Homo sapiens: one gene and its partners. The protein of the gene in region 3 purifies or fractionates together with the protein of the main gene of each other region. This does not show direct contact. Each region holds a gene or a part of one and is shown on either strand. Other genes may lie near its edges. The genes, in order: KLHL26, PAGE5 and PRR15.

Region 1 (4,334 bases), on a different chromosome or scaffold from region 3:
TTCTTCCTGCAGAGCAACCGGCTGCAGAGCTGTGCCGAGATCGACCTGTTCCGCGCGGCCGTCCGCTGGCTGCAGCATGACCCGGCCCGGCGGCCGCGCGCCAGCCACGTGCTCTGCCACATTCGCTTCCCGCTCATGCAGTCGTCCGAGCTGGTGGACAGCGTGCAGACGCTGGACATCATGGTGGAGGACGTGCTGTGCCGCCAGTATCTGCTGGAGGCCTTCAACTACCAGGTGCTGCCCTTCCGGCAGCACGAGATGCAGTCTCCGCGCACCGCCGTGCGCTCGGATGTGCCCTCGCTCGTCACCTTCGGCGGCACGCCCTACACCGACAGCGACCGCTCGGTCAGCAGCAAGGTCTACCAGCTGCCTGAGCCGGGAGCCCGCCACTTCCGCGAGCTCACGGAGATGGAGGTAGGCTGCAGCCACACGTGCGTGGCCGTGCTGGACAATTTTGTGTACGTGGCCGGGGGGCAGCACCTGCAGTACCGCAGCGGCGAGGGCGCAGTGGACGCCTGCTACCGCTACGACCCCCACCTGAATCGCTGGCTGCGCCTGCAGGCCATGCAGGAAAGCCGCATCCAGTTCCAGCTGAACGTGCTGTGCGGCATGGTGTACGCCACGGGCGGCCGCAACCGAGCCGGCAGCCTGGCCTCCGTGGAGCGGTACTGCCCCCGGCGCAATGAGTGGGGCTACGCCTGCTCGCTGAAGCGCCGTACCTGGGGCCATGCTGGGGCCGCCTCAGGGGGCCGCCTCTACATCTCGGGTGGCTACGGGATCTCAGTGGAGGACAAGAAGGCCCTGCACTGCTACGACCCCGTGGCCGACCAGTGGGAGTTCAAGGCGCCCATGAGCGAACCCCGCGTGCTACACGCCATGGTGGGTGCCGGCGGCCGCATCTATGCCCTCGGGGGCCGCATGGACCACGTGGACCGCTGCTTCGACGTGCTGGCTGTGGAGTACTATGTGCCGGAGACGGACCAGTGGACCAGCGTGAGCCCCATGCGGGCCGGCCAGTCAGAGGCCGGCTGCTGCCTGCTGGAGAGGAAGATCTACATCGTCGGGGGCTACAACTGGCGTCTCAACAACGTCACGGGCATCGTACAGGTGTACAACACGGACACCGACGAGTGGGAGCGGGACCTGCACTTCCCGGAGTCCTTCGCAGGCATAGCCTGCGCCCCCGTCCTGCTGCCCCGGGCCGGGACCAGGAGGTAGCCCCCAAGACCCCCGGGACCCTGGCCTGACCGCATGTTGTCTCCAAGTGGGGCTTGGCGAATGCACGTCTGCCTGAGAACCCCAGTGCCCCCCTTCGCCCGGGCTGCCCTTGAGGGGCCTGCTGCGTTGATAAGCCCCCCTCCCAGGGGTCCCTCCCTCCCTCCTTCCCAAAGCAGATCCTGGCTGCGAGTCCATCCGAGGGAGCCTGCCGGCAAAGCGTCTGACATGTGGTGGCAGCAAATTCGTCCCCGGGGTGGTTTCCTCGCCTGGCCCCCGAGTCCCCACGGGCTGGCGGGTGGAATCCCAGGTCTCCAGGGGGTCCCTGTGCAGCTCCATCTCACTTCTCTACTGCCTCCCAGCCCCACGGTTTCAGGCATTCAGATGTGAGCTCATCAACATTGAACCCAAAGTCGGTGGTATATGACTCACCCTCCTTCCAAGTCTCCTGCGCGCGTGTTTTTAAAATAAACTCACCCGAAACGTCCGTAACACACGGACCTCCAGGAGCAGTGAGAGGTGGCTTAGAAGCCCCTGGTTTGGGGTGGGTGGAGGAGGAGGGCACGTGTCTGCCTCCCCTGGGGTGCCCTCCTTCCCCCATCCCAAGCTGCTGAGGGGAGGCCCTGGTCATGCCTCAGTTCCTGCCTTCATCTGCTTTCCGGAGGAAAAACCATATCAACTCCTAGAAACGCTCCTTAGGGGCTTGGGACCTTCCATTTGGCACTGAGCATCTTGTGGGGCCTTAACTGGCTGAGACATCCCGGCCCTCTACATTTGCCCTGTTGGCCAGGCAGTCCCCTTCCCGCAATTGGAGGGCGACGCTAACTTCAGAATCCCATAGTGGCGCTTGCCGCAGGTCTGGTGGGGTGTCTTTTTTCTCCTCCCTCCTTTCCACCCCTCCGCGCCCTGCCACTCCCTGGCCTGCCCTGTTTTTGGGTCAACATTGCTACGGAGCCAGCAGTGAGGCCTTTCCCTTCAAGGGCTCTGTGGTATCTCTGGCCACATTTGTTCTAATGTCTGAACCTCTAAATCTTTTCTTTTTGATTGGTTTTACTGTTTTTAAGAAGCCAGCACTGCTGTCTCATAGATGGGATTTGTACTCTTGGGGCAACTTAAAGTGTCTCTCTCGCTGCTAACAGACGATTGATGTCTTGTCTCTGTGACCCACTCACCATGTAAAGAATTAACCTCCTATCTTAGCAGACATCGTCTCCTAATATTTCCCTTTATTTAATAAAAATGTTATGGTGAAGAGATGGAGCCGGCCCAGCACTGAGCTTGTGCGGCTTGGGTCTGATTGGTCACAGATTCCTCGTGTGTCCTCCGCGTGTCTGGGGGCTCCTCTCCCCCGCCTCAACCTTTTCCAGCCTTTCAGAGGAGTCGGCAGTGGGCTGGGCTTTGGCTCAGGGGCGCAGAGGCAGCAGGAAGCGTGGCCAGGACTTTCACCCTGGCGTTTTTTGTTGTTGGTTTTTTTGTTTTTTTGAGACGGAGCCTCGCTCTGTCACCCAGGCTGGAGTGCAGTGGCGTGATCTCGGCTCACTGCAACCTCTGCCTCCTGGGTTCAAGCAATTCACCTGCCTCAGCCTCCCAAGTAGCCAGGATTACAGACGCAGACACACACCACCACACCCGGCTAATTTTTGTATTTTTAGTACAGACGGGGTTTCACCATGTTGGCCAGGCTGGCCTTGAACTCTTGACCTCAGGTGATCCACCTGCCTCTGCCTCCCAAAGTGCTGGGATTACAGGTGTGAGCCACCATGCCCGGACCAACCTTGGCACTTTGGAAGAGCCTTCAGCCCCCTATTCTCATCATGGCCGGCCAAACTATGAACTGGGCTGCCCAGAGCAGGCCACTTATCAGTTGCAGGTTAGCAGAGAAAGCCTGATGTTCCCGGACGGCCTTCCCAGAAGGGAGGCCCTGGGATATCACACACACATGGATCTCCATAAGTTGCTGTGCCTGCATGCCTGGCGCTCCTGTGTGGCAGCCATCGGGGCTGGGGTAACACTAGAGGCTGAGGGGGTGGGCAGTGCTAAAATAGGAACATGGTTGGGAACCTAAAAGAAGCCCACACTGTCAGGGGCATCGAGACAAAAGCCGAGTTCCCTGGGGACTTACCAGAACATTCCAGCCCCACCCCCGACCTGAGCTCCCCCAAAGAGAACCCTTCCCCACTGGAGGCATGGCCCCTTCAGGGGAGCAGTGAGAAGCTTTGCCAGCTGCAAGTCCCCTGGATCAGCTCACACCTCAGAACATCTTGTCCCCAGTGAGCTGGCAGGGGCGCCGGCCCAGGGCGGGGGGCGCTGCTGTATCTAACCGGATCGATTGTGCATAACCGTCTAGGCCGGTTCGTGGAATGTTCGTGGGGCCCCCTGCCCCTCCCTCAGCCTCCCCCCGCATCCCCCCAAGAAAGGAAAATTATTTTTCGTATTGTAAACTTTAAACATGAAAAAGCTGTTTTTAATTTAGCAGAAACTGGCTTGAATCTTCACTTTGTGAACGTTTGTGTCCTTCAGAGGCAGAATATGCCTGCGCACACTCGCACATGCTCATGCACACACCTGCACACGCATGCCGCAACACGCACATTCACATGGCCGTGCTCGTGCACGCCTGCACACGCATGCTTGCCCATACCCACGCATTGCAGCGCGTTCACACGCTCACCCGCACACAGTGAAACACAAGCTCACACATATGCACACACACACATATCTGTGCATGCACCCCTGGACCAGCGTAGCCCAATCTGCCTGGCGGCCCAAAGGGGTCTGGAGCCCGGCACCGCCCCGAGCCTGGGGGAAGCCTGTCTACTTCCAGATGCCCTGCCTACTCGCTGAGGCCTGGACGCCGGCTGCAGGAGCCTCCCTTGCACCTGGGCTCAGGCTGTGGGAAAACGCTGTCTCTCGGGACGGTCAGATGCAGGCCCGCAAGAGGGAGGCCAAGTGCGACTTCTGGGGCCTCTCAGCAAGTGAGGGCCAAGGGGGCCTCTGGGGAGCCGTGTGAGGTGGGAATCCGCCCCGGACCTGGCCAGCTTGGAAACCTGCCCCTGGCTCTGTCTCCGAGGAAGCAGCTCCAGCTCGTCCGTTCTCACGGGCCCTGGAGATTCACTTTG
Region 2 (4,194 bases), on a different chromosome or scaffold from region 3:
CAATAAAAATGCCCAATAATAAATTTAATTTGAATGTGAAGAACTAATATGAAGCAAATAACACAGTCATTGTGAGGGATACATAAAAAGACTTGAGGAAATGAGGAGTGGCTTTTTCTTGGATAGAGAAATTCTAAAATAGAAAGATAGATATTGTCCCTAAGTTAAGATGTAATTTAAAAATAATACCTAGTGTCTCACCTGGAATATTTTAGCACCTGATCAAATGATTCTGAAGTTCATCTGAAAGACAAATGTGTCAGAGTAGACAGAAAAGGAAAAAGCAATGAGGGAGGGCAAGCATTATTTCGCATTACAAATATAATTAAGCTACAGCAATTAAAATAGTATACTAGTGGTACAGGTACAAACGACTCAATGGAAGAAAATTAAAATAAGAGAGTTACATACAAAATTGAGTGGGGATGTAGGTGATGATAAAAGAGCCACTTCAAAACAGTGGGTGAAACAGGGATTCAACAAATGATGTAGAGTCCCTACCACTTAATTTTGTTCAGATGGATCAATTTTTTTTTTGTTTGTTTGTTTTGTTTTTTTTTTTTTTTTGAGATGAGGTCTCACTTTGTTGCCCAGGCTGGAGTGCAGTGGCACGATCTCGGCTCACTGCAACTTCCACCTCCCGGGTTCAAGCAATTATCCAGCCTCAGCCTCCCGAGTAGCTGAGACTACAGGCGCGTGCCACTATGCCCGGCTAATTTTTTGAATTTTTAGTAGAGATGGGGTTTCACCATGTTAGCCAGGATGATCTCGATCTACTGACCTCGTGATCTGCCCGCTTGGGCCTCCCAAAGGGCTGGGATTACAGGCGTGAGCCACTGCGCCTGGCCCGGATCAATGATTTTGAATGTACAATCATGCAACAAAAACTATGAATGTCTTATCATATTGGAGTGGGTAAGATCATTGCAAGCATGACAGCAGACTCGCGAAGGCACAAGAAAATGATTTATGAAAGCAGATATAAAATGGGTATTAACATATATAATATTTATTTCTATGATGGCGAATTTGTCCGAAACACATTGTTTTCTTAGAGTAACCTGGGCCTCATATTCTCCAACGCCATTGGAAGTGAAAGGAAGGTTGGGCGGGGGAAAAAGAAAAGTGCTTTGTAAGTTCATTTTCGTTGTCAGAAGAGCTTGTGGTTTAGGTTCTCCACAGAGGCAGGAAACCTTCAGTCACGTGGCAAATACCCCACTGAGTGCGCATGCTGCACAGATCTGTTGCTGCGCATGCGCCTTTCTGCCCACCTTCTGTCTAGGCAGAGCTCTGCAAGGAGAGGTTGTGTCTTCGTTCTTTCCGCCATCTTCGTTCTTTCCAACATCTTCGTTCTTTCTCACTGACCGAGACTCAGCCGGTAGGTCTGCAGAGTGGTCTTCCTGGTAATTTAGTTGTGAGTGAATGTGTGGAGGAGCCAGCGGGCTTAGGACAGGTCCCGTGGCACAGTCCGTGGCTTTGAGGGAAAAGGGCCTCGCGGTGGTCCTCCGCCTTCCCCCAGGTCCTGATGCAGGCGCCATGGGCCGGTAATCGTGGCTGGGCTGGAACGAGGGAGGAAGGTAGGCCGTGGAGGGGGTAGATCGCCTGAAGATGGTGCGAGTCCTGGGGGTGGGTGCTGTTAGAGGTGTCTGAGTCCCGAAAACGCCTGGAACTCTCTGAGGGAGGACAGTTTCTGGACTCTTCGTTAGGGATGCGAGAAGGGATGGTGTGGGTGGTAAGGAAGGGGCCAGGAAACTGGGAACGCTGTGGGCTGGTGACTACGGCCCCGAGGTCTGTAGAGTGCCTGGCAGAGGTGTCCAGTGAGGAACATAACCTTAACTCTGTGTCGCAACTTCTCATCTCAGCCATGGACCTCATGGAAAGGAATGGTTGAGGCTGTGCATTCCAACAAAACTTGATTTTTCGGGGAGTGGGGAGGAGGTGGTGGTGGCCCTAGTATATCAGAGTGGGAGGAAAGCAGCAGTCACTTCAGTTTCAATTTTCTGCCCGTTTTTTTCCTAAATGTGTAAATGATGGAGAGTCTAATTGTGAAGCCAAAACTCAGAAAAGTCCTCTGTCTTTTGCTATGGCGTTAAGGTGTTTTCTGTGCCTCTTCGACTATGATACAAACAAATCTGTCCTTAGTTTGATTGGAAAGCATGCGTACTTATCAATGCTCTGTGACTTAGTTTGAAAATATTTTCAAAATTAAAAAAGTACAAATCACCATTTTGCCATGGAATGTTCATATATATAGCTAAGTTCTTACACACTTTTTCCAAATAACAATATTTTGTTTTCAGTGAGAGATATGAGTGAGCATGTAACAAGATCCCAATCCTCAGAAAGAGGAAATGACCAAGAGTCTTCCCAGCCAGTTGGACCTGTGATTGTGAGTCCTTTAGCATTTGATGTTTTCTATTAACACATTTTATTTTAAAAAATATTTTTGAGCGAGTGTACATGCACTGATACAGGTGTTCCATGCTAATAAAAAATGATGATGGCATCTCATGAAGGCAACTTTGGTTCAGGAATATTATATTCTGGTGTTGCCTTATGGATATGGATATTTTACTCTCTCTCTATATATATATCTATTGGAAAATGTCTTTAGATTTATGATTCGATGCACATATGCATTTGTGTGTTTATATTATTGACTTTTTATTCGCACACACACTTACACCCTTAGGTCCAGCAGCCCACTGAGGAAAAACGTCAAGAAGAGGAACCACCAACTGATAATCAGGGTATTGCACCTAGTGGGGAGATCAAAAATGAAGGAGCACCTGCTGTTCAAGGTGAAGGGAGAGTGGAGAATAATGCTTATGGGTGGTGGAGGTCTATTTATGCATTATATTTTGTGACATACCAGTAACAGGAGGACAGAAAACATTAGGAAGGAATCTTAAACATTTCTTACTGCTGCTGTGCGGAGGGGTGGGACAAGGACACATAAAAAGCCACAAACTTTCCTACCATTTTGACGGAGGCTTTTTATTGATTGGGTATTTGCATGGTTGCCGTAAACCTTTGAGTGTTTTCCAGAGTTCCTGTATGGTTTGTTCAGCTATTTTCTGTTTTTTGTTTTGTTTTGTTTTGTTTTATGCTTCTGTGGAAGAATGGCAGCTTGCAGCTTCCTAGTCTGCCATCTGCGGACATCTCTCATGTATTTTTATAAGATACTTTTTAACACATTTATTAATGCTTCCTCATGCTGTGTAATATACTAAGCGCCGGAGATGTCAGTGCCAAATTTTTGCCTAAAGCTCATAGTCTAGTCAGACTGACTCAAACAAATCACTGATTTAATGTGATAAGAATAAGAACAAATGAGTACAAAAGGAACAAGTAAGTTGTCTAGGGCCAGCCTTGGGAAAGGAAAGGGCAATGTTTGAACATTTCTGCTTTCCTGCTTTTCTGGCAACAGACTTCTGAAATAATTAGCCTACAGGTTTTTATTTCACAATGATGAGGGAATAAATATTATTACCTCGTTCATAGTTCATATTTTAATTCGTAAATTGACGACTTTTTATCTTTAAGGGACTGATGTGGAAGCTTTTCAACAGGAACTGGCTCTGCTTAAGATAGAGGATGCACCTGGAGATGGTCCTGATGTCAGGGAGGGGACTCTGCCCACTTTTGATCCCACTAAAGTGCTGGAAGCAGGTATGTTATTCAATAAGATGCAAATTATAGGGTTTCTATTTTCACAATATTGTATTTTGTGTGACACAGAGGTAAAATTACTGCTACTTTAATATCATACTTCACATCTAAAGATTCTTTGAAGGTAGTTCAGACCCCAAATGGCTGCCTTACACACTATCAGAGATAGAAGGCCAGGTGTGGTGGCTCATGCTGTTAATTCCAGCACTTTGGGAAGCCGAGGCAGAAAGACCACTTGAGGCCAGAACTTCAAGAGATAGAATAAATTGGGTCAAAGCTAATTGAGTTACGATATGAAAGATATGAAACATGCTAAGAGAGTAGATTTTGAGTGTCTTCACAGCTATATGAAATAATGCATATATTAATTAGGTTGAGCCGTTTTACAATGTATGTATATTTTAAAACATCATGTTTTACATGATAAATATATATGATTTCATGTGTCATTTTTAAAAGAAAGATAAGAAAAGGTTTTCTAACTTTTAAATGTAAGTCATGTAACCAACAGCCAATAATTTT
Region 3 (4,364 bases):
TGTCACCCAGGCTGGAGTGCAGTGGCCGGATCTCAGCTCACTGCCACCTCCACCTCCCAGGTTCAAATGATTCTTGTGCCTCAGCCTCCCCAATAGCTGGGAATACAGGCGTGCACCACTACACCCACCTTGTTTTTTATTATTATTTTTAAGTAGAGACAAGGTTTTGTCATGTTGGCCAGGCTGGTCTCAAACTCCTGGTCTCATGTGATCCACCCGCCTCGGCCTCCAAAGCGCTAGGGTTACAGGCTTGAGCCATCTTGCCCGGCTGTCTTTCACTGCTTTTATACTGCAAACAGTTTTCACAACAGAGATGCTCAGTTGCTCCACACCCAGTCCTTCAGGGGAGTTATGCTTGCATATGAGCTCAAGGAACATCAAAATCGTTTTTTGAAACAAGAGCATCCTGGAAGATGAAGCAAGCTGCACCTCTGCCTTCATTAGTGAAAATGCCCTGTGCCAATATCTTTATGTCAAATGAATAAAAAGTACTCTTGGCCGGGCGCTGTGGCTCACGCCTGTAATCCCAGCACTTTGGGAGGGAGGCCGAGACGGGCGTATCACGAGGTCAGGAGATCGAGACTATCCTGGCTAACACGGGGAACCCCGTCTCTACTGAAAATACAAAAAATTAGCCGGGCGCAGTGGCGGGCGCCTGTAGTCCCAGCTACTCGGGAGGCTGAGGCAGGAGAATGGCGTGAACCCGGGAGGCGGAGCTTGCCGTGAGCCGAGATCGCGCCACTGCAGTCCAGCCTCGGCGACTGAGCGAGACTCCGTCTCAAAAAAAAAAAAAAAAAAAAAGTACTCTTATGTGACCAGGAGTGCAATCCCCGGTTCACTTCCTGCAGTGGCTCAGGGCTGGATTTACACTGCCCTCGTTGGGTGGCTGTCCATGGACTTCCAGGCCTGAAAGAAGGAAATTCACATCCTCACTGAGTCGTGTTAAGAGTCTCAGACTGGCAGGTTGTGGTGGTTAAGACCGTAGAAGCTAGAGTCAGGCCCCCTGGGTTCCAACCCTGCTCTGCCACGTACCAGACAGGCAAACCTGAGCAACCATTTTCCCGTGCTAGGGTTTCCTCGCCTGTCGAGTGAGAATAATAATAATAACAATACCTACCTCCTAGGGTTGCTGTGAGAAATAAATGACAATCCACAGAAAGCGCCTGCAACGGCGCCTGGCTGGCAAACAGCGGACTTGTTAATTACAGCCTTTCAACTAAGGGCGCCTGAAACTCGCAAACATTTTGCTCGGGTGTGGATTCGCTCCCGTTAGTTACAAACTTGGGATCCCGGGACCCGGAAAGCAAGGGGGAAAAATAAATCGCGATGGGGCCAAGGGACAGCTGCTGCGGCAACTTTTACCCAGCGGAGCCCACCTACAGCCTCAGCCTCCGGGTCTCAGGTCTCCGCCGTTTCTTCTCAAGGAGTCGGTCGGGGGAGCGGCACTGCACAGCTTTTCTCCAATCAGACACCTCAAGGCTGGCGCCTGATCCAATCTCCTCCCCTGGAGGGTGGGAACGCGAAGTTCCTACCTGCACCTGTGGCAGCGGTGACCGCCTCCTGGGTTATTTTCTTTTCTCCCCCAGCTGCCCCAGGGTTCTGGTTTCCCGAATCACTTGGCAAATAACCAGCAGGTGGGCAGATGTCTTTTTTGCGTTCCTACGGACGCGTAGGCAAGTTCGATGCGCCGGAGTGAACAGCCAGGGTCCCATCTCTCAGCCGGCTCCCGGGCGGTGCTAGCAGGGAAGAGGGACGCGCCGGCGAATGAAACACTACTAGCCCGGAAAGCCGCCCTGGACCTTCCACCCGGGCAGCGAGTCTGGCGGCCCCTCGCCGCCGCCCCCTCCGACCAGAACAGACTGCGCTGCGAGCCCCGGGCTTCCGCCGCAGCGCGCAGCAATTGGAGGTGCCAGAGGAGACCAGCAGCAGCACTTGATTTAGCTGGGCTGCGGGAATTCCGACCTGTACACTTTCCAGAAGCCTGATCTCTCCAAGTCCGCGCCCAGGGACTCGAGCCCCGGCTTCCAGGTTGACCCGAGCGCGCCCCCTTCGTGCTCTCGGCCGCGTTCACCGCGCGAGGCCTCCGGGTCCTGTTAAGCCCGAGCAGGTGAGCGACTGGGGGTGGTTCGGCGTCCGCCGAGACAGAGCCTGGCCCCGGGGGTCACCCTGGGGTGCTGCCTGGTACCTCCCAGGTACCCGCCTCCCGGAGCCCTAAGAGAGGCTGAAAACCACGGACGCTCCAGGACTCCGTTTTCTGTACTTTTGAGTAATTTGCCATCTTTTCCTTGCGCAATTCGTACAAAGCCCTTCCGTGCTCACAAAGTTGATGATTGTGAAGAAGAAAATGTAGGTTAGAGGAGAGGAAGCAGCATCAGGACACCTTACCACCACTGTTAGTAAATGACTTGGGGGTACGGGTTGCTTTTCCGATCTGCAAAGTAGGAGGGAATGGGATGTTTGCAGACGCAGTTGCTAATTGTGCCTGAGGGCGTGGGTGCCTTTTGTACCGAAAGAACTTTTGGCCGTTTTTTCTTGTATTGTTTTCAAGTCGCTGCCCGAGTGTGTCCTCAGGGCATCCTGGGGAGGAGCCGGTGTTGCGGTTTCGGGGCGCAGCCGAGGCCGCCCCGCCGCCTCCCGTAGGCGATCAGACTTCCTCTCCCTGGCGGTTCCGGGAGGAGAACCTCCTACAACAAACACCGCCGAAGTTTCCCTCTCCAGCGCGATCGCCAATCCCAGGAGCGCCCGGCGCGTGGGCTGGGAAGGAGCCGAGCGGAAACCTGGAAGTGAGCCGCGGCGCAGGCGAATCCTGCCGTTGCTGGTGGCAGCGCCCAAGAGACCCCGCACAGAAAGTGGGCTGGGAGTCTCGCTTGCTGTACCCGCACCTAAGTGCTCAGAAGCGGCCTTTCGCTCTGCAGAGGGGGGGTCTTAGAAGCTTGGGGAAGAAGCACATTGTTTCGGAGTTCCTTGTTGCGTTCTTTCTCCTTGGGAGGAGGGAATTGCACAAGGAAAAGAAGAGAAGCCTTTACTTTGTAACTGAAATTCTCCAGAGTTGAGTTGCGTCGTACAGACTCGGTGCATATTTTAATACAAAACTAAGGGAAGAGGCCATTTGATACTTGGCTTCATCTCAACCGTCAGCCGGGGGTGACTTCAAACAGACGCAAGATTGGGCTCTGGGGAGTAAAAGGAAGAATTAGGATGGCGGTTTTCAAGGGAAGTTAAGTCTAGACATGCTTCTTTGAAAGTCACAAGGCAGAAGTGGTCAAAAGTAGAATTTAAAAGAACCAAAACAAATATCATAAGCTTGTCCTTCTCTCCTACTGGGATATAAATTCTCCTAAGTATCTCATCGAAAAGGCTCCTGGGACGAAAGTCGATGGGGGCAAATCTTGGAGGGAAATTTCGTGACTGTTTGACCATGGACTAATTAATACCGTTCACCTGTAGAGAGGATGCACTTGGTTCCCAGCGCCCTCCTCCCAGGTGCTTATCCAAAGGGAGGCCGCCCTGGGTCGGATGGGTCACCTTTTGGCGTCCATCTACAGTCAAGCAGTGTGGACAGGGCGGTCATTTTCCCTCTAGAGACGGGTTGATTCAGAGGGGTGGGAACGTCCCTTGGGTCCCCCGGGCACGCTGACCACTGCACTGCACTTCCCCTGAAGGAAAGGCAAAGGTTGAAGCCAAAGAGTTCAAGGCTCAGCCTAGAGACCAGGTGATGGTGCCCTGGAAGACACTTCCGCCAGCACCCTATGGGGCGCAGTGGCGTCTAATGCTAATGTGGGCTACGTAGCTACGGGATTGGGTCGCTCCGACCCTGGCCGATCCGGTGCCAGACAGCATAAGGGAGGAAAGGGGACTGGGGGGGGCACGTGACTTCAACCAACCCAGTAACCAAGTTTTGTTTTCTTCCCCAGCACAGGCCGCTGCCTCAGCATCCACCCCGCAGCCCACGTGTGGCAAGCCGGGGAAGGGGTGGAGTGAACGGCCGGAGACCACGTGGAGAAAGGGGCCGCTTTGGCCCTTCCATCTGGGTGCCGGGAGCCCCTAGGCCCTCCGGCCATGGCCGACAGCGGCGATGCTGGCAGCTCCGGCCCCTGGTGGAAATCGCTCACCAACAGCAGAAAGAAAAGCAAGGAAGCCGCAGTGGGGGTGCCGCCTCCCGCCCAGCCCGCTCCCGGGGAGCCCACGCCACCTGCGCCGCCCAGCCCGGACTGGACCAGCAGCTCCCGGGAGAACCAGCACCCCAATCTCCTCGGGGGCGCCGGCGAGCCCCCCAAACCAGACAAGTTATACGGGGACAAATCCGGCAGCAGCCGCCGCAATTTGAAGATCTCGCGCTCCGGCCGCTTTAAGGAGAAGAGGAA

What was found.
Region 1: the proteins of PRR15 (region 3) and KLHL26 purify together in Homo sapiens (affinity purification with mass spectrometry; one large-scale study listed by BioGRID and IntAct). This does not show direct contact.
Region 2: the proteins of PRR15 (region 3) and PAGE5 purify together in Homo sapiens (affinity purification with mass spectrometry; one large-scale study listed by BioGRID and IntAct). This does not show direct contact.

Annotation. Positions count from the first base shown.
Region 1 is NC_000019.10:18,668,028-18,672,361, forward strand, and holds the end of KLHL26 (kelch-like protein 26), read left to right. Parts: coding exon 1-1,218; coding exon of another isoform or gene 1,219-1,247; 3' UTR 1,248-3,694; downstream 3,695-4,334. UniProt on the Homo sapiens protein: May play a role in endo(sarco)plasmic reticulum (ER/SR) mitochondrial signaling. May be part of the ubiquitin-proteasome system (UPS) and affect ubiquitination and degradation of target substrates in cardiomyocytes.
Region 2 is NC_000023.11:55,219,075-55,223,268, forward strand, and holds the start of PAGE5 (P antigen family member 5), read left to right. Parts: upstream 1-1,271; 5' UTR 1,272-1,378; exon of another isoform or gene 1,379-1,525; coding exon of another isoform or gene 1,526-1,577; intron 1,578-2,300; coding exon of another isoform or gene 2,301-2,308; coding exon 2,309-2,389; intron 2,390-2,692; coding exon 2,693-2,801; intron 2,802-3,546; coding exon 3,547-3,672; intron 3,673-4,194.
Region 3 is NC_000007.14:29,562,271-29,566,634, forward strand, and holds the start of PRR15 (proline-rich protein 15), read left to right. Parts: upstream 1-1,564; 5' UTR 1,565-2,107; exon of another isoform or gene 2,108-2,392; intron 2,393-3,262; exon of another isoform or gene 3,263-3,483; intron 3,484-3,914; 5' UTR 3,915-4,059; coding exon 4,060-4,364.